7 linked regions of the Homo sapiens genome follow. The protein of the gene in region 1 purifies or fractionates together with the protein of each later gene. This does not show direct contact. Each region holds a gene or a part of one and is shown in the gene's direction. Other genes may lie near its edges.

Evidence for each region.
Region 2: the proteins of LIAS (region 1) and HMGN4 purify together in Homo sapiens (co-immunoprecipitation; one large-scale study listed by IntAct). This does not show direct contact.
Region 3: the proteins of LIAS (region 1) and POLE purify together in Homo sapiens (co-immunoprecipitation; one large-scale study listed by IntAct). This does not show direct contact.
Region 4: the proteins of LIAS (region 1) and NDUFAF5 purify together in Homo sapiens (affinity purification with mass spectrometry; one large-scale study listed by BioGRID and IntAct). This does not show direct contact.
Region 5: the proteins of LIAS (region 1) and NFU1 purify together in Homo sapiens (co-immunoprecipitation; one large-scale study listed by IntAct). This does not show direct contact.
Region 6: the proteins of LIAS (region 1) and CTSV purify together in Homo sapiens (affinity purification with mass spectrometry; one large-scale study listed by BioGRID and IntAct). This does not show direct contact.
Region 7: the proteins of LIAS (region 1) and ALDH1A3 purify together in Homo sapiens (affinity purification with mass spectrometry; one large-scale study listed by BioGRID and IntAct). This does not show direct contact.

The regions. Positions count from the first base shown.
Region 1 is NC_000004.12:39,462,056-39,465,555, forward strand, and holds part of LIAS (lipoyl synthase, mitochondrial isoform 1 precursor), read left to right. Parts: intron 1-140; coding exon 141-234; intron 235-1,469; coding exon 1,470-1,550; coding exon of another isoform or gene 1,551-1,586; exon of another isoform or gene 1,587-1,759; intron 1,760-2,990; coding exon 2,991-3,147; intron 3,148-3,229; coding exon 3,230-3,287; intron 3,288-3,500. UniProt on the Homo sapiens protein: Catalyzes the radical-mediated insertion of two sulfur atoms into the C-6 and C-8 positions of the octanoyl moiety bound to the lipoyl domains of lipoate-dependent enzymes, thereby converting the octanoylated domains into lipoylated derivatives.
Region 2 is NC_000006.12:26,537,087-26,541,165, forward strand, and holds the start of HMGN4 (high mobility group nucleosome-binding domain-containing protein 4), read left to right. Parts: upstream 1-1,279; 5' UTR 1,280-1,415; intron 1,416-4,079.
Region 3 is NC_000012.12:132,670,343-132,673,842, reverse strand, and holds part of POLE (DNA polymerase epsilon catalytic subunit A), read left to right. Parts: intron 1-135; coding exon 136-268; intron 269-565; coding exon 566-679; intron 680-1,003; coding exon 1,004-1,216; intron 1,217-1,520; coding exon 1,521-1,628; intron 1,629-3,500. UniProt on the Homo sapiens protein: Catalytic component of the DNA polymerase epsilon complex. Participates in chromosomal DNA replication.
Region 4 is NC_000020.11:13,802,028-13,805,527, forward strand, and holds part of NDUFAF5 (arginine-hydroxylase NDUFAF5, mitochondrial), read left to right. Parts: intron 1-1,122; coding exon of another isoform or gene 1,123-1,305; exon of another isoform or gene 1,306-1,389; intron 1,390-3,500. UniProt on the Homo sapiens protein: Arginine hydroxylase that mediates hydroxylation of 'Arg-111' of NDUFS7 and is involved in the assembly of mitochondrial NADH:ubiquinone oxidoreductase complex (complex I, MT-ND1) at early stages. May also have methyltransferase activity.
Region 5 is NC_000002.12:69,416,936-69,420,435, reverse strand, and holds part of NFU1 (NFU1 iron-sulfur cluster scaffold homolog, mitochondrial), read left to right. Parts: intron 1-831; coding exon 832-898; intron 899-3,500. UniProt on the Homo sapiens protein: Iron-sulfur cluster scaffold protein which can assemble [4Fe-4S] clusters and deliver them to target proteins.
Region 6 is NC_000009.12:97,029,177-97,032,659, reverse strand, and holds the end of CTSV (cathepsin L2 preproprotein), read left to right. Parts: 3' UTR 1-2,983; downstream 2,984-3,483. UniProt on the Homo sapiens protein: Cysteine protease. May have an important role in corneal physiology.
Region 7 is NC_000015.10:100,913,979-100,917,126, forward strand, and holds the end of ALDH1A3 (retinaldehyde dehydrogenase 3), read left to right. Parts: exon of another isoform or gene 1-722; coding exon 723-795; 3' UTR 796-2,648; downstream 2,649-3,148. UniProt on the Homo sapiens protein: Catalyzes the NAD-dependent oxidation of aldehyde substrates, such as all-trans-retinal and all-trans-13,14-dihydroretinal, to their corresponding carboxylic acids, all-trans-retinoate and all-trans-13,14-dihydroretinoate, respectively.

The DNA.
Region 1 (3,500 bases):
TGACAGAAATTATAAGAGTTATTCTAAGGTTATAGAAAAAATTATTAACTAGGAATTGTAATAGAAGAAATTAACTTCAAAGCTGTGTAATTATTTGGCAGCATATTTGTTAATAGATAGTTATGTTTGGCTTTCCTTAGGTTAAGACTACCTCCATGGCTAAAGACAGAGATTCCCATGGGGAAAAATTACAATAAACTGAAAAATACTTTGCGGAATTTAAATCTCCATACAGTAAGTTGTCAAAGTGTAAACTATCCCTCTTCACCAAAAGCCATGTTTCTACGTTTATATAACTTAAAAATTATTAATAAATATATAAATAATAGCAAAGAAAGTAAATATGTTAAGTGATACATTACTACCAGGAATGGAAATATATTTAGAATCATTTTTCCGGCAAACAAAGAGATTTTTTGCCCTACGAGTTTGGAAACAAGGCTTTGTTTGTTTTATATTGCAAATTAGATATATGATTTGTTGGAAAGAATATAAAATTAAATATGAAGGTATGTCACATACGCAATGCCATATATAAACCATACTCCTTTACCTTTAACTCTTCAGTATATAATCTTTCAGACTTTTTTATTTGCACATATGAAGTATATACATTCGTAAAGTTTTTAATTTAAAAATTGGATTTTGGCCAGGTGCGGTGGCTCACACCTATAATTCCAGTACTTCGGAAGGCCGAGGTGGGAGGATCACCTGAGGTCAGGAGTTCAAGACCAGCCTGGCCAACATGGTGAAACCCCGTCTCTAATAAAATACAAAAAAAATTAGCTGGGCGTGGTGGCGTGAGCCTGTAGTCCCAGCTACTTGGAAGTCTGAGGCTGGAGAATCACTTGAGCTTGGGAGGTGGAGATTGCAGTGAGCTGAGATGGCACCACTGCACTCCAGCCTGGACGACAGTGAGACTCCATCTTAAAAAATAAAAATTCAAGTCTGTCCATTCTTACATAATTATGTAAGGGAGTACACCTCTATAGGACATGCTCACTACACTCTAATCTTAATATAGAGTTGGGCAGTTTAACAGCCTTTTTTTTTTTTTTTTGAAGACAGGGCATTGCTCTGTTGTCTATGCTGGAGTGCTGTGGTACAATTGCCTTGACCTCCCAGGCTCAAGTGATCCTCTCTCCTCAGCCTTCTGAGTAGCTGGGAGTATAGGTGCACATTACCACGCCTGACTAACTTTGATTTTTTGTAGAGGCAGGATTTCACTATGTTGCCCAGACTGGTTCCAGACTCCTGGGCTCAAGCAATCCTCCTGCCTCAGCTTCCCAAAGTGCTGGAATTACAGGCATGAGCCAGCGCACTTGGTCTTAACAGCATTTTTGAATAGTGAATGTCTTCAAAAATATGTTGTAAACAATGAGAAGTTTAAAATGTCTAATCACAGTCACCAACTGTTTAGTTGGTGGATATTGTCAACCTAATGGTGTTCCATTTCCTTTTGCATACAGGTATGTGAGGAAGCTCGATGTCCCAATATTGGAGAGTGTTGGGGAGGTGGAGAATATGCCACCGCCACAGCCACGATCATGGTAGGGCCAGCCTCAACCTCTATGGCTTTAGTCTAGAAACTGAAAGGGACTATTTTGTGTCTTCCTCCTAAAAATGTGCATTATGAATCTCTGGTCAGATTTTTCATTACATTTGCATTTATGAAAAATATTAAGAAAAAACCTGATGGAATAATCCAACCTGTTGTAATCTCACCCTTCTCTGAATAAATCTATTATTGGTTCTTTCATTTATGTGATAGTTAATCACGTGCTGCCTTGAGATACCTCTCCTATCAATGTTTGGAAACATTATTCATGATTGCTTAGCTTTTTATGTGTTTTCTGTTTAACATATTCAACAAGAAGGAGCTGTGCTTTCTGTTTTTACATCCATAGAGACCTGTACATTGATCTGTCATATATTTTATGTCTTTTAAAATCATCTTTTTTTATTATTGAATAGATATAAAAGTATCTTCATAGGCCGGGTGCAGTGGCTCATGCCTGTAAGCTCAGCATTTTGGGAGGCCAAGGCAGGCAGATCATTTGAACCCAGGAGTTCAAGACCAGCTGGGCAACATGGTAAAACCTTGTCCATACAAAAAAAAAGTTTTTAAAAATTAGCTGGGCATGGTGGCACTTGCCTGTATACCCAACTTCTGAGGAGGCTGAGGTGGGAGGATCACTTGAGCCCAACAGGTTGAGGCTGCAGTAAGACATGATCATGCCACTGCGTCCCAGCCTAGACTACAGAGCAAGACCCTGTTTCAAAAAAAAAAAAAAAAAGTATCTTATAAACTGTGTAAGTTATAAAGAATAACACAACAGACACCCTCATACCTCCAGTTTGAGATTAAAACGTTAGCATTATCTTTGAATACCCCTCTGTACCCCCTAAACTGTATATTAGAATCCCATTTTTCAGTTGTGTTTCTATTTTGTTTTAAGAAATGGGGGTCTCACTCTGTCACCCAGGCTGGAGTGCAGTGGCACAGTCATAGCTCACTGCAGCCTCGAACTCCTAGGCTCAAGTAATCCTCCTATCTCAGCCTCCCTAAATACCTGAGGCTACAGGTACATGCCACTACACTAGCTAATTTTTAGAGACAGGGTCTCACCGTGTTGCCCATGCTGGTCTCAGACTCTTAACAATCCTCTCACCTCAGCTTCCAGAGTAGCTGGGATTACAGGAGCAAGCCACTGCACCCTGCTTTGTTTTTAAATTTAAATTTTGCGTCCTTTCCTGATCCCATCCCCTTTCCCCTGAACACTATTCTTATTGCTGAGTTTATTATTTCCCTTTTTAGTTTTATCACATATATTTATGTTCCTTGACTATCATTTAGTTTTGAATGTTTCAAATTTCTTATAAACAGAACCAAACTGTATGCATTCTTTGCAACTTGCTTTATTCTCTCAACATTATGTCCTTAAGGGTCATCTGTCTATTTCATTTAAATTGTAACATTTCTATTCTAGTTGATGGGTGACACATGTACAAGAGGTTGCAGATTTTGTTCTGTTAAGACTGCAAGAAATCCTCCTCCACTGGATGCCAGTGAGCCCTACAATACTGCAAAGGCAATTGCAGAATGGGGTCTGGATTATGTTGTCCTGACATCTGTGGATCGAGATGGTTAGTGTGTCATCATGGCCTCTACCAGAAACTGGCTCTAAATGATGACATCATCCTGAGCAGTGGATTCTTTTGTTTCTAGATATGCCTGATGGGGGAGCTGAACACATTGCAAAGACCGTATCATATTTAAAGGAAAGGTACTTATTTTTGCATTTGTGTAATTTAAGGACCTTTTTGGACCCATATGAGTTAAGTTTAAGTTCATTACCTTGAAACAGGGATTATTCACTTTTTGAGGAGTTTCATAGTTTTCTGATAATTCACTGGAAATTATGTACACATTTCTTTGGAAAAAGCATATTTGTATGTACAGATACATATTTGCAGAGAATTTTAGGGGCTCAGTGACA
Region 2 (4,079 bases), on another chromosome or scaffold:
TTATTATTATTTTTCTCCAATCGCTTATCACTATTATTTTGTTTATTTAATGCTTTATTATCCGCTTCCGCCACTGCCATGTAATCTTGAGGGCAAGGGTCTCTCATGTTTTCTTCACCGTTATCTGCAGTGCCTTGAACACTAATACTGGTTGAATGAACGAACGCATTAATGGAGCGGTGATATTGGGGCAGAGAGGATGCAGGGCTTGCTTTTCACCGCCATTTTTCAGCCGGCAGAGACAGACCGAGAAAGGAATGAAGGCCACGGGGCGTGTGCAGAAGTAGCTACCAGAGAGTCCATGCGCTGCGAGCCTGGACCAGCGGGCAAACGCGGCTTACAGGCGTTCACCCAGATATTACGGGTACAACCTAGTTTCTTATGAAATACCTCGCCCCTAAGGTACGCGCAGGGCCAGTGGCGCAATGGATAACGCGTCTGACTACGGATCAGAAGATTCCAGGTTCGACTCCTGGCTGGCTCGGTGTAAGCAGGGTCGTTTTACAACTTTCTGACTCCGCAGGAGTAAGGAAATTCCTGCAAGATAAATTTGCCTGGAAGACTCAGAAGCAAGAGGGGCAGCTCCCGACAACATATGGGGTTATCATTTCTTTGCGGAGCATTCTGCCACTGACCACGTGGTAACGCCAACTACGCCAGAGAAACGCTCGCCCTACCCAAGTTGTGCCCAGCCTTGCCTGGCCATTTTGGCCGAAGAACGAAGGACCGTTCAGAGATTAAATTAAAGTCTCTATTGTGTTCTTCCCTATTCAGTCATTTGTAGAATAAATTCTATGGCTTCAGTTTGAACACTGGAGGGGCTGGGTCTGAGCTTTTCATTGGTTTTTCTGGTTTGAGAGGTCGGTACAGAGACGCACGCGCACATCAGCAAAACACGCACTTGGAACGAAGAAACACGGAACTAGGCAGGAAGAACTATTTACTCTGAAAAATAAGCCCTTAGTGGGTTTCCGTAGTGTAGTGGTTATCACGTTCGCCTCACACGCGAAAGGTCCCCGGTTCGAAACCGGGCGGAAACACGTTTTTTTTTCCTCATCTTACTACGAAATTCTTCCAGTGTGTATCTTTTAAAGACTTTTTCAGGCTGTCATAAATTTCCTGTCTTCTTGTCTTGCTAGATCGGGGCAGCAGTGCTTAGGGCGGGCCTCAGAGGCTCACACACGTATCGCCAGGGGGAGAACCAGCTCTCTCCGGCTTGGACTCGGGGCGGCTCCCCGCCTGCAGCCCCGGAAGCGCATCCTCACCTTCCCTCGCCTTCCTGTTCCTGGCGGAGCCGGGCTCCGCTCGTCTTCTCTGTCTTAGGGCTGGTGCTGGCCCTGCCCACGCCTAGGGCTCCGGCGCGTCACGGGCCTCAGCTGGGATTCCCGCGCCCCTCGGACGGCCACGAGACTCGGGTAAGTGCCTCACAGACTTTGTGCGCTACCCCGGAAAATGAGGGGCGTGGTGGGGGGGGTCCCGCCGCCCTCCGTATACTTAGGACCCTCCTGCCAGCTGGCCCCGGTCATGATTAGGGGCCTTGGGCCCCGTCAGCCCCGCCTGTCTTCCCGTCTCCAGAGTAATCGCAGCATCTCTCCTGAGCTCCGAGTGTGAATCCCTGGGAAAAGCTGAATCCAGAGGTGGGGTCACAGAGAGCCGCAGGCCCGACCGGGATGAGAAGTCCTAATCGGCGTTCTAGGGGCGTTCTAAAAGAAGGAAGGAAGGGGATTTGAAAGGATTGCTCCCGCAGGGCTGTGGCCTTAAAGAGGTGGTGACTGGCAGGTTGGACTGACCTGCCGTGGGCTCTCCCTTCCTCCCCAATTTACCTTCGAGAAACCCTCGTTGAGGAGACACCCAAGGGCTGAGTCCTCCTCCACTTTGACCTTTTGCTATTCCATCACAAAGAAAAAATGGATCCCAAAGTTAAGAAATGGACCAGCACTTGTTTAGAATCAGGACTGGTGCCTTGGTGTTTGGCCTCTTACCTCTGCCACATGGCTTGCTTACAAGTTAATCGGATTAATCAAACGCTTTTATGAGAAAGTTTTGTTGTGTCACCTGGCAGCCTCGGGTGTTCCCTAAGAGGGATTTCTTTCTTAGATGTATTACTACTTTTTCTAGGGATTAGCCAAGCCTAGCCTCTCAGATCATATTGCTCCAGGTTCCCTCAAATGACTAATAAGAATGTGATGTGTTTGTTTTTGTTTGTTTGTTTTTGAGACGGAGTCTCACTCTGTTGTCCAGGCTGGGGTGCAATGGTGCGATCTCGCTCACTGCAACCTCCACCTCGATTCTTGTGCCTCAGGCTCCCGAGCAGCTGGGACTACAGGTGTGTAACACTACACCCGGATAATTTTTGTATTTTTAGTTGGAGACGGAGTTTCACCATATTGGCCAGGCTGGTCTCAAACTCCTGACCTCAAGTGATCCGCCCGCCTCGGCCTCCCAAAGTGCTGAGATTACAGGCATGAGCCACCGCGCCCAACCGAATGTGATATTTTTATGACCATGAGAAAAGAAGGGCTGCATTCTTTGGTGGGTCCGCAAAATTAAAAAAAAAAAAAAAAAAAGAAAAGAAAAGAAAGAAAAGGACAATGTTAATGAGCTGTTTTCTTTTTATCATTTTCTTAAACAGGCTGCTTGGGTAGACGTTGACTTGAAAGGTCCATTCTTTTGTCATCTTGCTGGTTCCCTTAACAAGACAACACCTTGGCTAGCAAGATAATATCTTGGTTAGCAAGACAATAAACTTGGGCATGTGCTCAACAGCAACCTGTCTAATACATTTTCATTTAAAATCCCCTCTGTACTACTCAGAAATATAAGCAAGTTATTATGGTGCCCAGAAAGGGGGCAAAGGTTCCAGGGTCCTAGGAGATGACAAGGATTTATCCTCTTCATCTTTCTCCGATCCCAGTTAGCAGGAATACTTTAGCCTGGAAGGTGAGTGTGCCCCTAACCAACCTTTACAGATGGGTGACTGTTTGGGAGCTTATGGCTCACTCCTTCTCTTTAAAGCAGATGCATTCTGGCAAGCTGCAGCAGCAAACCTACCCTTTTAGACACCCTGCGTTTTCTCATCTTTCCTTTCTACCCCTGCATCTCCCAGTCTCTCTCACTTAACCTCCGTGGAAACTCATGCTGCGTCTCTAATACTTTGGAAGATGAAGAACAAACGCCCTGGAGAGTGACTGACACCATGTGACCTCTTGCTTCTGTAGCACACTGCATCTTGCCTGTGAATCTTTTTTTTTTTTTCTTTTTTTTTTGAGACCGGGTCTTGCTCTGTCACCCAGGCTGGAGTGCAGTGGCACAATCTTGGCTCACTGCAACCTCCGCCTCCCAGGCTCAAGTGATTCTCCTGCCTCAGCTTCCCAAGTAGTTGGGACTATAGGCATATGCCACCACACCCAGCTAATTTTTGTATTTTTAGTAGAAATGGGTTTCACCATGTTGGCCAGGCTGGTCTTGAACTCCTGACCTCAAGTGATCCACCTGCCTCCACCTCCCAAAGTGCTGGGATTACAGGCGTGAGCCACCACGCCCAGCATTTGCCTGTGCATTTTTTATTGTATTTTAATTATATCCTTTATTCTCTCCTTCCTAAGCTTGGTGTTCTTAACTTTCTTCCAGATCTTCCCTCCAACCCCCAAACACGATCTCTCCTTAAGTAAGAGGCAGGGAGGGAGAGGGGAACCTTCTGATTTCGGGGTGGGATTGAGGCTAAAACCCAAGTTAGAACTACCTCCCAGAAACCCAGTTCCGTATCCATCGAGTGATCAAAAAGATGCTGCTAAAATGTGCCTTGTGTTTGCTAGGGATGAGGTGAAAATGAGTATTGAATGAGGTGGCATTTTGGTCCATGGATTTGCTTGCTATGAAAGAGAAAAAACATGGAAAAATATATTTTGAGAGCTGGGTGAGACCCCCAAATTAATCTAATCCAAGATGTTTCCCTAGTCATTACATTCCTTTTTTTTTGAAACAGAATCTCACTCTATTGCCCAGGCTGGAGTGCAGTGGCGCAATCTCGGCTCACTGCAACCTCTGCCTCCCGGGTTCAAGCAATTCTCCTGCCTCAG
Region 3 (3,500 bases), on another chromosome or scaffold:
GGCCTTGGTGTGAGGCTCCTGGGTGCCTGTTAGGAACTTGCATCTGTCTGTGTGGTGCCCAGTTTTGCCAGTTCTCAGGGGTTCCCGGGCTGCATGTTAGAATCATCCTGGCTTCTGTTCTCATTCTCCTTCCAGGTGGGTGAAGAGGGACAGTTACCTTCCTGTGGGCAGTCATAATCTCAAGGCGGCCGCCAAGGCCAAGCTAGGCTATGATCCCGTGGAGCTAGACCCGGAGGACATGTGCCGGATGGCCACGGAGCAGCCCCAGGCACGTAAGCCACATCCCGGCTGCCCCTGCTGCCGTGTGCACGCATCCAGATGGCCACGGAGCAGCCCCAGGCATGTGAGCCACATCCCGGCTCCCCCTGCTGCCGTGTGCACGCATGTATGCCAGCCCGCTCCACCCAGCAGGCTGTGTCTCCGGGACACACGTGTTTTGTCCTGTGCCGGTCTCCTTACTGTGTGTGCGGCAGGCTGGTCAGGCCAGGCTTTGCTTTCTGTGCTTCACACTTGACCCTGGGCTCTTGATTTTTGATGGCCCTGCTCTCTGGCGTTCTCTCCTCAGACTCTGGCCACGTATTCTGTGTCAGATGCTGTCGCCACTTACTACCTGTACATGAAGTACGTCCACCCATTCATCTTTGCTCTGTGCACCATTATTCCCATGGAGCCCGACGAGGTGAGCATTATCTGTCCTGTCGGCACCCTGGCCTCCTCAGCCCTTGCCCCATTCCAAATGCACTGGAGCTGAATGGAGGTGGATGTCCCAGGAGTGCTGGCACCAGAGGCGGCAGTAGAATTCTGGTGTGTGACGTCAGGGATGTCCTTTGGGAATTCTCTGGCCCTGGTGTGAGGAAGAAACCACAGGAGGCAGAATTTGCAGCCATTTACCACGAGGTTTTCTCTCCTTTCACACTGAAGTTCAGCTTAGGTTCCTGGACTTTGCCTGCAAGTCAGGGCCTTTGGTGTTGCTTTTGGCTGGAAGCCTTGGTTTCTCTTGCAGGTGCTGCGGAAGGGCTCTGGCACTCTGTGTGAGGCCTTGCTGATGGTGCAGGCCTTCCACGCCAACATCATCTTCCCCAACAAGCAAGAGCAGGAGTTCAATAAGCTGACGGACGACGGACACGTGCTGGACTCTGAGACCTACGTCGGGGGCCACGTGGAGGCCCTCGAGTCTGGGGTTTTCCGCAGCGATATCCCTTGCCGGTTTAGGATGGTGTGCTTCTTCCCTGGGATTCAGATTCTTCCCACTCTTGTGCTGTGGTAGGACCCAGAAGCTGCAGGGGCTGAAATAAAGCCCCTTCTCCCCATCCTGTCCCACGGCCCCTCACCGGGTGTGGCTTCTCTGGCCCAGCACCCCCCGGGGGCTTCTTTAGGGCAGTGCACTGCAGATTGTGCACATGAGTCCTTCCGGAGCTTTCTCGGGCACAACCTGCCACGTGCAGCCACAGCGTCAAACCTGAGGCAGGCTAGTGTGGGTGTGTTTCCCCTCTGACCCCGTCGTCTCACTGTTGTGCTAGAATCCTGCCGCCTTTGACTTCCTGCTGCAGCGGGTTGAGAAGACCTTGCGCCACGCCCTTGAGGAAGAGGAGAAAGTGCCTGTGGAGCAAGTCACCAACTTTGAAGAGGTAACCATCAGGGAGGCAGGAAGAGCCAGTCTGTGTTTGGCGCCTTCTTCACAGACCACGTCTTTCAGCAGCACGTTTATTGTGCACCTGCTGCGTGTGGTGCTGTGGACGGATGACACAGGGTCTCTGGTGGGACAGGGCAGTCATGGTTGTGACGTGTGATGCTGTCACAAGGTCGGAGGGCTTCATGAGAGGTGGGGTGTGAGCTGCTCCTGAAATGCAGTAACATGGAAGGTGGGTCCTGGTGGGATGTATCCCGTGTCCTGTTTTAAAGCATTAGGACTTTATTTTATAGGCACTGGGGAGCCATTGGAGGTTTTAAATTTTATTTACTTTTTGTTGTTGAGACTTAAAAATGACAGTAAATTCCTACAAATGACAGGATTAGTGACTGTAAAATCTGTTTACATAATGGTTAGAAAGCACACTTACAAAGTGTGTTATGTGACTGGAGAGGGAGACACCAGTTCTTCTCTGATCCCTGTTCCTCAGGACATGGCACATCTCAGGTCTTTTTTTTTTTTTTTTTTTTTTTTCCCTTTTTGAGATGGAGTCTCGCTGTTGTTGGCCTGGGCTGGAGTGCAATGGCATGAGTTTGGCTCACTGCAACCTCTGCCTCCCGGGTTCAAGCAATTCTCCTGCCTCAGGCTCCCCAGTAGCTGGGATTACAGGCATCCGCCACCACACCTGGCTAGTTTTTGTATTTTTAGTAGAGACAGGGTTTCACCATGTTGTCCAGTCTGATCTTGAACTCCTGACCTTGTGATCCGCCTGCCTTGGCCTCCCAAAGTGCTGGGATTACAGGTGTGAGGCACCGCGCCTGGCCTATCTCAGGTCTTTATGTCAGGCACTGTGCAGCACTACATCATGTTCAGTGAGGTTGCTGGTTTAGAGTTTTTAACAGTTTTCACATTGATGCCAAGAAACTTTTTTTTTTTTTTTTTTTTTTTTTGAGACGGAGTCTTGCTCTGTCACCCACACTGGAGTGCAATGGCATGATCTCGGCTTACTGCAACCTTTGCCTCCTGGGTTCAAGCGATTCTCCTGTCTCAGCCTCCTGAGTAGCTGGGATTACAGGTGCCCACCACCATGCCTGGCCAATTTTTGTATTTTTAGTAGAGATGAGGTTTCACCACGTTGGCCAGGCTGCTTTCGAACTCCTGACTGTAAGTGATCTGCCCACCTCAGCCTCCCAAAGTGCTGGGATTACAGGTGTGAGCCACTGTGCCTGCCCTCAAGAAACATCTTGTAATAGATTCACTAGTCAAAATTTAAACAAGAATATGTGTACACTCTTGGCAAGCTGTGAAGCACTGTTTGGCTATTGTCAGCCACATCCATTATTATACTTCAGGGAACTCTTATGAACCGATCAGGAAGAGAGCCTTGTCTGAATAACAAATAGGAGTTAAAGAATGTCGGCCATGGCCGGGCACGGTGGCTCACGCCTGTAATTCCAGCACTTTGGGAGGCCGAGGTGGATCACGAGGTCAGGAGATTGAGACCATCCTGGCTAACACGGTGAAACCCCGTCTCTACTAAAAAAATATAAAAAAATTAGCCGGGCGTGGTGGCGGGCACCTGTAGTCCCAGCTACTCGGGAGGCTGAGGCAGGAGAATAGCAAGAACCCGGGAGGCGGAGCTTGCAGTGAGCCGAGATCGCTCCACTACACTCCAGCCTGGGCAGCCTGGAATCCCAGCATTTTGGGAGGCTGAGGCGGGTGGATCACCTGAGGTCAGGAGTTTGAGACCAGCCTGGCCAACATGGAGAAACCCCGTCTCTACTAAAAATACAAAAAAAAATTACCCAGGCGTGGTGGCGAGACGTCTCAGAATCTGAGACAGAGTTTCACTCTTGTTGCCCAGGCTGGA
Region 4 (3,500 bases), on another chromosome or scaffold:
AGAAAAGGGGATAAGTAGGGGAACCTGTAATATTACCACCAATAACTACCCCCAAACAGTGCCATATGAAGCAGAAATGAGAGAATGTGTGTTCTCAAGGCCTAGGGTGAGATCAAGGCTAAAGAAGGTAGGACAGGGTGCTGTACTCCATTAGGGCTAGAGAAATCTCGAAAGAAGACCCATGGGCAATCAGTGAGTAATAAGCATGAAGTCAGCATGGTACGGTGACGGGGTAGGACAGTAGGACTTTGTTCTCCGACAGGAGTAACTTGGATCCTTACCCTATTTCTTTACTAGATAGGGAAATTTGAGTAACTTACCTTTTTGAGCATTTATTTCTTTTAAAAATGCAAATGTGTGGCTGGGTGCGGTGGCTCACGCCTGTAATCCCAGCACTTTGGGAGGCCGAGGCAAGTGGATCATCTGAGATCAGGAGTTTGAAACCAACTTGGCCAACGTAGTGAAACCCCGTCTCTACTAAAAATACAAAAAATCAGCGAATTGTGGTGATGCATGCCTGTAATCCCAGCTACTCTGGAGGCTGAGGCAGGAGAATTGCTTGAACCCGGGAGGCGGAGGTTGCAGTGAGCTGAGATCACGCCATTGCACTCCAGCCTGGGCAACAAGAGTGAAATTCCCGTCTCAAAAAAAAAAAAAAAAAAAGCAAATGTTACTCACCTCACCCTTTAAAGAGATAAAGGGTGTGAAGTACCAGGACCATGGTAGATGCTCAGCTTACATTAGCTCCTGCCTTCCTCTTTCCCCATCACTCTACTCCCAGCATTTTTCTAGAACTAGGCTTCCAAGAGACAGCCATCTGGAGAGAATGATTGCCCTCTTCTTCCTCCCTCCACTAACAGTCTTTCTAAAGGATGTCATTACTCTCTTCAGAGATCAGTCCAGTAGACTTAATATGAATTTCCAAACCCCTCAGGCCTAGAAACATCCCTAAACCTGATTAGTGGAAATAGGAATTTCTTGATGAAGAAAGCATCTTGCTACATAATTAGAGATGATAAGCTTAAACGCTAAAATAGCTGTTTGGCATGATTTTGTGTGAATATATTCATGAAATCAACCAACCAAAAATAGATTGTGTCATATCCTTCCTTGTTTTTATAGAAGCAAGGGGCATGGGCAAGCAGGGCCCCTGATGTTGGAAAGGAGCCTCCAGGGAGGGAAGAATTAACAGGCTGGAGGACTAGGCTGGGAACTGAAGAGAACCCCGGAGGCTTCACACCTGTGACTAGTGTTGATCTTTTGTTAACTTTTAAATGGCCTGAGTCCATAGAAACTGCATCCTGAGAGGTTGCTCGGCTAGAAAGCGGAAAACCGCTTCACATGAGTGCTCTACTTTGTAATGAAAATAAACACTATTAATACAGGCAATTGTACACTGAAGGATCATTGTATTTATATTTGTAATTGTATAAGTAACACAAATATATTTTGGTTGTAACTATTAAGCTATACAGATAAAGCGAAAGTCTGTCATTCCCCCTTAATCCTAAAAATGCTTAGCTCTCTCTTGAGAGTAAGAGTTCTCAAAATTTTGGTCTCAGGACCCCACTACACACTGAAAAGTAATGAAGAAACTTTTAAAGGGCTTTTTGTATAGTGAATTAACATCTGTCAGTATTCACTATATTAGACATTAAAACTGAATTTGTTTTCGTATTCATTTAAAGCTAACAATAATATACCTATTACTTGTTAACATAAATGACCCTTTTTAATAAAAAATAACTATATTTTCTTTTAATTTTTTTTTTGGGGGGGGGACAGTTTCACTCTGCCACCCAGGCTGAAGTGCAATGGCACGGTCTTGGCCCACCACAATCTCTCCCTCCCAGGTTCAAGTGATTCCCCTGCCTCAGCCTCCCGAGCAGCTGGGATTACAGGCACGTGCCACCACGCCCCATTAATTTTTGTATTTTTAGTAGAGATGGGGTTTCACCATGTTGGCCAGTCTGGTCTCGAACTCTTGACCTCAAGTGATCCGCCCACCTCAGCCTCCCAAAGTGCTGGGATTACAGGCATGAGCCGCTGCGTCTGGCCATATTTTCTAAAACAAAAATAATTGAAAGGGAAGAATGACATTGCTTCACATTTTTGCCAGTTAATGTGCACCTTAGTAACAGAGCTAGATTCTCATGTCTGTTTCTGCATTCAAGTTTCTTGTTACACCATGTGTCATGTCATGTCTCCTCTAAAATAACCCATCGTAGAATAAGAGGTAAAAAGCCAAATAGTATCTTGGTATTATTATGAAAATAATTTTGACTTTGTGGACCCCCAAAAAAGTCCTAGGGACCCCAGGACTCTCCAAACCACACTTGGAGAACTACTGTCCTAGAGGTAGCTACTATTATCACTTTAGTGTGTAACCTTCCAGACTTTTTTTTTTTTAACAAGGACTACTTTATATAGACAGTCATATGTATTCACACATTTCTGAAACTTTTTTTATTAACAGTATATGTATTTCCAATATACTGTTAATAGTTTTCTAAATTGGTATGGATATATTTGCACTCCTTAATTTCCGCATATTATTTCCTAGTATGAATGTACCACAGTTTTACTTAACTATTTACCTGTGAATGACCTTTAGGTTTGTTCTGATTTTTTGCCAATAGTAGCAATGCTGCAGTGAATATCCTTCTATACAAATTCATTTATGTATTCAGTCTTGCAACAAACATTTACTGAGTACCTTCTGTGTGTCTGGTACTATCCTAGGTACTTCAAATATAGCAGTGAACAAAACAGAAATCCCTGCGTGGTGTTTTTGGGTTTATAGCAGGCCTGTTGGTAAACTTTAGACCGTTCAATAATACTGGGATGTTGTACACAAAATTTGTGGTGGTGGTGTTCATAAATGGAGGAAAGTACCCATGGTTTTCATCAGATCTTGAGAGAGCTAATATAACTAAAAATAGATTAGGAACCAGTGATTTAAAGCCTTTTTGATAATATTTATTTTACTTATAATATGGAAAAAATTTCCTTTACAGTCTACCCTCTTGAGAATCGTCTCCTATATTGCTGTGTCACCAACCTATCATTGAGATGAAAAAAGAATCTCCGGGAATGTAAAGCCTCTAAAAAGTATAGGAGGTGTAGGGCTGGGATGGTGTGGCGATGTGTAGTGCACATTTTCATGAGGTGATGTTAAAAAATTTATACGAGGTCATACAGGTTAGTCAGCAATATTACAGGACTCAAAAGTTATTGCCCATTACGAAAAAAATGGGATTTCTGCTAATCACCAGAAGAAAGTTAAATTATGTGAACTACACATGGTTTTCTGTGGTTATAAAGAATGAGTTTTAGAAAGATTTCTACTAAAAATGTTTAACCTGATGTTAAAATGTTTAAAAGCCTACATTTCTATTAATTGGGAAATATAATTCAGAATACTATCCATATTCTCTAAAAATGAGCCTAATGACTCATACTTTAATATAATATAAAAATATTGGTGTAGAATCTTCTTT
Region 5 (3,500 bases), on another chromosome or scaffold:
GTTCATATTTTGTATTAAAAAAGTAAAAGTAAAAAAGCCCCAATTAATTCAGTTATAGATTAGTTAGAGATTATTTCTGTCAGATGTTCAGTTGGCAAAATCTCTTTTCAAGTTAGTCTTTTGAAAATAGTCTGTTTAGGCTGGGTGTGGTGGCTCATGCCTGTAATCCCAGCACTTTGGGAGGTGGGTGGATCACCTGAGGTCAGGAGTTGAGACCAGCCTGGGCAACATGGTGAAACCCCATCTCTACTAAAATACAAAAATTAGCTGGGCGTGGTGGTGGGCGCCTGTAATCCCAGCTACTTGGGAGGCTGAGGCAGGAAAATTGCTTGAACCCAGGAGGCGGAGGTTGCAATGAGCCAAGATCTCACCACTGCACTCCAGCCTGGGGGACAGAGGGTGACTCCGTCTCAAAAGAGAAAAAAAAAAAAATAGTCTGTTTAGTGCTCAGTACAGTGCCTGGCACTTAGTAGGTGTCAAATATTGGTTGAATGAATGATTGATAGTATAGATATAGCAGTCTATTCATTCACCAGGTGATGGACATTTCCATATTTTTCTGTATGTGTGGCTATTTTAAATGAAGCTGCTATGAAGATTTATGTACAAGTCTTTGTGGAGCACGAGTTTTTATTTCTTTTGGGTAAATAACTAGGAGTGGGATTGCTAAATCGTAGAGTAGGAATATAAAACAAAATTGGCCATGAGTTGATCATTGTTAAAGCTGCAAAGGATATGTGGAGAATTTTTTACTTTTCTCTACTTTTGTGTATGTTTAAACTTTTCCATAATCAAGCATTTTAATATCTCTTATTTTTTCTTTTTTTGCAGGCAGTTATTTAGGATTGAAGGAGTAAAAAGTGTCTTCTTTGGACCAGATTTCATCACTGTCACAAAGGTAAACATAGGATTATATAAAATAAGACTTGAAATACTCTTCATTTTTTTCTGAGTCCAATGCCTCTCTCTCCAACATTTCCATTCTTTCTGTTCTTTAATTTTTATATTTTATTTTTGAGACAGGGTCTTACTCTCTTGTCCTCTAAATGTCACAAGAATCAAGCGAAATATGCTATGTTTTTCTTTTTCTTTTCTTTTTCTTTTTTTTGAGATGAAGTCTTGCTCTTGTCCCCCAGGCTGGAGTGTGATGGTGCGATCTTGGCTCACTGCCACCTCTGCCTCCCAGGTCCAAGTGATTCTCCTGCCTCGGCGCCCCCCCCCGCCACCCTGAGTAGCTGGGATTGCAGGCGCCTGCCACCATGCCCAGCTAATTTTTATATTTTTAGTAGAGACAGGGTTTCGCCATGTTGGCCAGGCTGGTCTAGAACTCCCGACCTCAGGTGATCCACCCGCCTCGGCCTCCAAATTGCTGGGATTACAGGCGTGAGCCACCACGCCTATAAAAAATATGCTATGTTTTTCAACAGTCAAGGCAGTATCTGCTAGAAAGGGCTGTTCCATTTTTGATGTCTACTAGATTAATGGGACATGAACTATTTAAATTTGAACTATGTATCCTTTTAAATCTGTTAATTGACATATATCCACGGAACTTAAATCACTTGCCTGATAGTGTGTGAAAATCAAAAATATTTATTAAACTCCCCTTAAGCAAATTGAAAGGATTAGTCTGAGCTCTTTATGTCCTTAAAAGTGGACATACTGGGGGCCGGGTGTGGTGGCTCACGCCTGTAATCCCAGCACTTTGGGAGGCCGAGGTGGGCAGATCATGAGGTCAGGAGATCAAAACCATTCTGGCTAACATGGTGAAACCCCGTCTCTACTAAAAATACAAAAAAAAAGTAGCCGGGCATGGTGGCGGGCGCCTGTAGCCCCAGCTACTCAGGAGGCTGAAGCAGGAGAATGGCGTGAACCCGGGAGGCGGAGCTTGCAGTGAGCGGAGATCGGGCCACTGCACTCCAGCCTGGGCGACAGAGCGAGACTGCATCTCAAAAAAGAAAAAAAGGGGACATACTGGGTTAGTGACATGTTAAATCTAGTCATCTAGTCCAGTATTCTCTTGCGGCTATTTATTTAGAGACAAAGTCTCACTCCACACCCAGGTCAGAGTGCAGTGGCATGATCTCAGCTCACTGCAGCCTAAGCCTCTTGAGCTTAAGCAGTCATCTCACCTCAGCCTCCCTAGTAGCTGGGACTATACGTGCATACCACCATGTCCAACTAATTTTTGTATTTTTTGTAGAGATAGGGTTTCGCCATGTTTTCCAGGCTGGTCTCAAATTTCTGAGCTCAAACAATCTGCTCACCTCGGCCTCCCAAAGTGCTGGGATTACCGGTGTGAACCACCACGTCCAGCCCCCCATTCTTCAGTTTTCTTTCTTCCATATTTTTTAAGGAGAAGAAGGGATGAACATTTATTTAATATATTCAATGTCGGATATGGCCCTAGTGCTTTACATATGTTATCTAATTCTTACAACTAGTTATTTTATAAGTGGGAAATTATATATTTATTTTTTAAAGTTATTTAGTTCTTTTACGTATAGCCTATGCTATATAAAAATTTTTATAGGTAAAAATGTGATTATATCTTAAAGGGTTTTGGTTTTTTTTTTTTTCCTATTTTTCTTGATTAGATTTAGTAAGTCATCTTTTAGCTCTCTTACTTTCATTATTTAGTTACCCTATTTGAAATTGCCCTAGCTCTACAATTTTTTCTTAAGTGAAATGACATAACCAATAGATAATATCCCAAGTTAGGGTATATGTTGATACACATATATGTATGTGTGTGTGTATATCTATCTATCTACACATACATATAGATGGGATCTTGCTCTGTTTCCCCAGGCTGGAATACAGTAGTGCGATCATGGGTCACTGCAACCACTAACTCCCAGGCTCAAGCGATCCTGCTGTCTCAGCTTCCCGAGTAGCTGGGACTACAGGTGCATGCCACTATGCCCAGCTAATTTTTTTTTTATTTTTTTTTATTGTAGAGACAGTGTCCTTCTATGTTGCCCAGGCTGGTCTCAAACTCCTGGGCTCATGCAATCCTTCTGTCTCGGCCTCCCAAAATGTTGGGATTACAGGTGTGAGCCACCACGCCTGGCCCACGTTGGTATTTAATAGACGGAATACTGGATTTATTTTGTTTTCTTCCAGTAATGTTTCTCATCATGGACTATCACATTTTACTGAATGTCTTCAGCAATCGCCTGTTTCTATTTCTGATTTCCAGTTGATAATTAGACTTCTTTATGCATCATTTGTGTTATTTTTTTCTAAATATATATGTATATTTGCAGCTTATATGCTGCCCTTTTTTTCTCATTCAGACAACTTTAGAATATTTTTTCTTTTTATTACCAATATTTTCCTATTTAGTAGAGCCTGCTATTTACTGAAGATCTGAGGTAACACTCTGATTTGTTTTCCAAATAATTTATTACCTACAACTAGTTTCCATTCCCAATCACTAAGATATTTCACTAGTTTTACTTTTATAACCTTAGCAGTCCCCATTTATCTCACCTTTT
Region 6 (3,483 bases), on another chromosome or scaffold:
ATAAAGGTGGGCCTTTTTTTAATGCATTGGCTTTTTGTGTAGTCAGGAAATATAATTAAGCTCTGAAATAATAACTTCATGTGCCAATGGTATGTTAGGAGAAAGATGCTAGCAGAAAGCTGGCTTCCTGGCTCTTGAGTAGTTATAAAAATACAGACTTTATATCAGCTGCCCAGTTACTGTGTGTTACCCAACTCCTGAATCTACCAAAATTTGATAAACAATTTGGAAGGACAAACCTACATTTTTTTTTTTTATGAGACGGAGTCTCTCTCACTCTGTCACCAAGGCTGGAGTGCAGTAGTGTGATCTCAGCTCACTGCAACCTCTGCCTCCCGGGTTTAAGCAATTCTCTGCCTCAGCCTCCCGAGTAGCTGGGATTACAGGCGCGTGCCACCACGCCTAGTGTATTTTTAGTAGAGAGAGGGTTTCACCATCTTGGCCAGGCTGGTCTTGAACTCTCGACCTCGTGATCCACCTGCCTCAGCCTCCCAAAGTGTTGGGATTACAGATGTGAGCCACTGCGCCCAGCCCCTAAATTGTTTTAGTAAAGAAGAAAGCAGTTGACTTTTTAGAAAAGGAAATGTCTTCTTCCTTTGACACATAACCTCAAGATGGTTAGGTTACGTGATAAAAAGTGAAGCTGCTTGTTACTGGAGCCTCTCTGAATTGCTGGTGACCACTTTGCAGTCTGAGGAAGACGCAGGTGCAAGTAAGTTACCAAGGGTATTTTGTTTTCATTCCAAGTCTCTGATGACATATTCCACCTAGCTCTTCTAGAAAAGCTTATTTGTTAACTAGTGTTAGCAAAAATAAATGGTGTGGTTAACAAATCTCAGGCATTTGACAGTAGCTGGAGAAATTTGTTCAAGGTCCACAAGAGATGAGGCTGGGCTACAAAAAGAGGCCTCTGGCCGAAGATGGATAAGAGATCACAAGTGAAAGGTCAGAAGTCACTAGGCCAGACTCTGGCTACCTAATCCCTGAATTAAAAATAAACTCAAAATGGGGGGAAAAAGGCTAAGCATATAGTTACACAGGTAGTAAATACAAATAAAACGATATTTTTGCATATTTAAAATACTGGAAGAAAGTACACCAAACTTGTGGGTGAATTATGGGTGGTTATTTAACTCGTTTAGTGAAAAGCATGTATTTTTATGAGCAGGAGAAAATAGTAAAGATATACCCACATTCTGCAGGCTAAAGGAGAGCCCTGTGTGTGTTTTAAAAGCCCATGTTTCCAGTCAAATAAAAAATTACCGGGGATGAGCTGGTGAAATTTAATCGAAAGGTGATCCATTGTGAATGCAATGGGAGGGAAGGGGCATGTGGGACTGTGTATCCCAAAAACCCTTTGATAGCCTATGTCCACAGCCATCTCTGGAAAATCCAGTCTACCATATTCAGTCTTGAGTTTTCTCTGAGAAAGGATTCCTTCGTCTTTGCAGCAGCAGGCTAAGTTGGTACTCTCCACAGATTCTTGGAACAACAACCCAGGCTCTAAGGAAACATCTAGGCACTAAATTGAATGAAAGAGTGATGGCTTTTTATTCAAATAAAAAAATTTCAAATCTGTCAAAACAGCACCCCTCGGAAAACTAAAATAGAGATATTTCAAGATTTTATAATTTTCAAAGACCTTTGAAATATTTTAAACTTGTGAAAAGTTACAAACCTGATGTGTTGTCTAAAAGCGTTTTTCAAACAAGCCAGTAGACTTGAAAAATCTAGTCTGAAGCACAGACTTAACCAATATTTGCTGGGGATATGCCCCCAAATCTGGCCATAAACAAAATCTCTGCAGTACTGTGACAGGTTCATGATGGCCATGACGCCATGCTGAAGGTTTACCGGAATGAGAGCAAGGAACACCTGGACCACCCAGGGCGGGAAAACGGCTTAAAGGCGTTCCTAAACTACAAACAATAGCATGAGCGATCTGTGCCTTAAGGACATGTTCCTGCTGCAGATAACTAGCCAGACCCCATGCCTTTGTTTCGTTTGGGAAGGAATACTTTTAGTTAATCTATAATCTATAGAAACAATGTTTATCACTGGCTTGCTGTCAATAAACATGGGTAAATCTCTGTTCGGGGCTCTCAGCTCTGAAAGCTGTGAGTCCCCTGATTTCCCACTCTGCATGCTATATTTCTGGGTGTGTGTCTTTAATTTCTCTAGCGCCTCTGGGTTAGGGTCTCCATGACCAAGCTGGTCTCGGCAAATATTTCCTATACTCGAACATCTAAATTGTTTGTTTTCTTACTTGAATTGCAAAGGAAGTAAGGAAGGGTGAGATAGAAATCACTGAGCATATTAAGAGGGAGGAGTTTGCTGATGTGGGAGTGTAGTTATGACACTTGGGCATCATACTAGAGGCTATGGACTTAGCAATAAGGAAACATCCACTCAGCCCTATGTGTGGTTCATGTGTATGTTTTGCCTATGAAAGTTGAAACTGTTTTCTAAATGTTATTTCCTTTTGTAACTGATAAAATTTCTAAAAAGCAAAGAAGAAACTTTTCTGTATTAAAAATAACAAACATTAGTAAATGTATATATACAGTCATGTGTTGCTTAATGATGGGGATACATTCTGAGAAATGTGTCTTGGGTGATTTCATCGTGACGTGAACATCATAGAGTACACTGACACAAACCTAGATGGTATAGCCTATTACACACCTAGGCTATATGGTACAGCCTGTTGCTCCTAAGCTACGCACCTGTGCAACACATCACTGTGCTGAGTACTGTACACAGTTGTAACACAGTGGTAAGTATTCGTGTATCTGAACAGAAAAGTACAGTAAAAATATAGGATCATAATTTTATGGGACCACTATCATATATGCAGTCACTGACCAAAACATCACACAGCACATGACTTGTGTGTATGGATATCTCAATTGTAAACAATTTCACAAATGTTCATTATCTCTTTTTAAGTAAGTTAATAAGTAAAACTATTACTAAGCTGCAACGTGTTCTTGTTCTGCAGTGTATTTATTCATTTGGATACAGTTGATTCTTGAACAATGCAGAGGTTAGGGGCACCAACCCTTGTGCAGCCAAATATTTGCATATAACTTTAATTCCTCCAGAACTTTTCTACTAATAGCCTACTGTTGACTGGAAGCCTTGCTGATAACATAAACAGCCAATTAACACATATTTTGTGTATGTATTGTAAAATACTGTATGCTTACAGTAAGCTAGAGGAAAAAATGTCATTAAGAAAATCATGGCCAGGCACGGTGGCTCACACTTGTAATCCCAGTGCTTTGAGAGGCCGAGGCAGGCAGATCACGAGGTCATGAGATCAAGACCATCCTGCCTAACATGGTGAAACCCCATCTCTAATAAAAATACAAAAACAAAATTAGCCGGGCGTTGTGGCCGACACCTGTATTCGCAGCTACTCAGGAGACTGAGGCGGGAGAATGGCGTGAACCCGGGAGGCGGAGCTTGCGGTGAGCCAAG
Region 7 (3,148 bases), on another chromosome or scaffold:
GGAAGGGAAGCTACCCTGAAGACGGCCCATGGTGCCAGGGAAGGATCACCTGAGCCCTGCAAGATTTAAAGAAAGGAACTATACCAAGGATGTGAACCCAAAAGCTGTGGCCTCCCCATGTCCACTCTGTGCTAACGTCTGCTTCTCTCATGCCCCCTAGGCTGGCCTCACTGCCTGACAGCTGGTCCCCAGCTGTGCACTCTGAGGCCAGCTTCAGGCCCTTGGTGTTCTTCCCACTGGTCCTCTGGCCACATCCCCAGCCAATAGCTTTGGGCCTCTGCCTCTTCTGTCTCCTCTTCAAGCAGCTCCCAATTGCCATCTAAAAGTTATCAACCCAGTGTAATTTCTGCCCCTCCCTCGTTCACAGACACCCCACCGTCCACCAGGCTCTCTCGTTTTGCTCTCTATTGCCACCCCAGGGAATTCACCTCTTTACTTTTTTTAAAATCCCCTTCATTCTCTAAAGGGAAACCCTTAGTCCTGGCCATTTCAAAAGCATCACACAGAAGAAGACCTTGATATTTACATTTAAGTCACATATGCAGCTACTGACACTTACTAGTGCTGTTATAGTCCTGGCTATTATTCCATGAGGTCGTCACATTTTAACCTTTTGCATAAGCCTCCAACGGCCTGATGGAATGATGAAGCCTCAGAACAGTTTCTACACAATGGCTAAGGGATGTACCCATTTTGAATTTTCCTCTTTTCTGTGATCACAGAGGTGAATACGCTTTGGCCGAATACACAGAAGTGAAAACTGTCACCATCAAACTTGGCGACAAGAACCCCTGAAGGAAAGGCGGGGCTCCTTCCTCAAACATCGGACGGCGGAATGTGGCAGATGAAATGTGCTGGAGGAAAAAAATGACATTTCTGACCTTCCCGGGACACATTCTTCTGGAGGCTTTACATCTACTGGAGTTGAATGATTGCTGTTTTCCTCTCACTCTCCTGTTTATTCACCAGACTGGGGATGCCTATAGGTTGTCTGTGAAATCGCAGTCCTGCCTGGGGAGGGAGCTGTTGGCCATTTCTGTGTTTCCCTTTAAACCAGATCCTGGAGACAGTGAGATACTCAGGGCGTTGTTAACAGGGAGTGGTATTTGAAGTGTCCAGCAGTTGCTTGAAATGCTTTGCCGAATCTGACTCCAGTAAGAATGTGGGAAAACCCCCTGTGTGTTCTGCAAGCAGGGCTCTTGCACCAGCGGTCTCCTCAGGGTGGACCTGCTTACAGAGCAAGCCACGCCTCTTTCCGAGGTGAAGGTGGGACCATTCCTTGGGAAAGGATTCACAGTAAGGTTTTTTGGTTTTTGTTTTTTGTTTTCTTGTTTTTAAAAAAAGGATTTCACAGTGAGAAAGTTTTGGTTAGTGCATACCGTGGAAGGGCGCCAGGGTCTTTGTGGATTGCATGTTGACATTGACCGTGAGATTCGGCTTCAAACCAATACTGCCTTTGGAATATGACAGAATCAATAGCCCAGAGAGCTTAGTCAAAGACGATATCACGGTCTACCTTAACCAAGGCACTTTCTTAAGCAGAAAATATTGTTGAGGTTACCTTTGCTGCTAAAGATCCAATCTTCTAACGCCACAACAGCATAGCAAATCCTAGGATAATTCACCTCCTCATTTGACAAATCAGAGCTGTAATTCGCTTTAACAAATTACGCATTTCTATCACGTTCACTAACAGCTTATGATAAGTCTGTGTAGTCTTCCTTTTCTCCAGTTCTGTTACCCAATTTAGATTAGTAAAGCGTACACAACTGGAAAGACTGCTGTAATAACACAGCCTTGTTATTTTTAAGTCCTATTTTGATATTAATTTCTGATTAGTTAGTAAATAACACCTGGATTCTATGGAGGACCTCGGTCTTCATCCAAGTGGCCTGAGTATTTCACTGGCAGGTTGTGAATTTTTCTTTTCCTCTTTGGGGATCCAAATGATGATGTGCAATTTCATGTTTTAACTTGGGAAACTGAAAGTGTTCCCATATAGCTTCAAAAACAAAAACAAATGTGTTATCCGACGGATACTTTTATGGTTACTAACTAGTACTTTCCTAATTGGGAAAGTAGTGCTTAAGTTTGCAAATTAAGTTGGGGAGGGCAATAATAAAATGAGGGCCCGTAACAGAACCAGTGTGTGTATAACGAAAACCATGTATAAAATGGGCCTATCACCCTTGTCAGAGATATAAATTACCACATTTGCCTTCCCTTCATCAGCTAACACTTATCACTTATACTACCAATAACTTGTTAAATCAGGATTTGGCTTCATACACTGAATTTTCAGTATTTTATCTCAAGTAGATATAGACACTAACCTTGATAGTGATACGTTAGAGGGTTCCTATTCTTCCATTGTACGATAATGTCTTTAATATGAAATGCTACATTATTTATAATTGGTAGAGTTATTGTATCTTTTTATAGTTGTAAGTACACAGAGGTGGTATATTTAAACTTCTGTAATATACTGTATTTAGAAATGGAAATATATATAGTGTTAGGTTTCACTTCTTTTAAGGTTTACCCCTGTGGTGTGGTTTAAAAATCTATAGGCCTGGGAATTCCGATCCTAGCTGCAGATCGCATCCCACAATGCGAGAATGATAAAATAAAATTGGATATTTGAGAAACATTGTGCTTTTTCATTTAAAGACCAAAGTCATTTGAATTCGATGGCAGGCCTTTCTCTTTCTGAGACCTGTACGAAATGGCTGATATTAAAGCAGGATCAATAATGTAAGCATAAAATTACATTTGCTCAGTCAGTCGGGCCCAGTGCTTTGCCTGAGTGTGAAACCCATTTCTGTGGGCTTGGGGGTTGACCAGGCAAGGAGCTGGGCCTCAGAGGTTCCATGTCATAGCTGGCTGAGTTTCAGCTGTTATCTAAGCTGCCTGAGTCTCCTTTTATCATAAAGTAGTGATGGTGTCAGTGTGCGAAATGGTGGGGAGGACTGCATGAGGATTGACGGACAGCATTGTGCCCCTGACGGTGAGCACAAGTGTCTGTTTTTGTCACCTTTTCCTCTAGAGAAATCTAGAGGATCTAGAGAAAGGATCAATTTGGGTTTTACTGACCTCAAGTTTCTAAAGCTTCTAACCAAGAAGCCTCAATCACCCCGTTGTGAGCTGA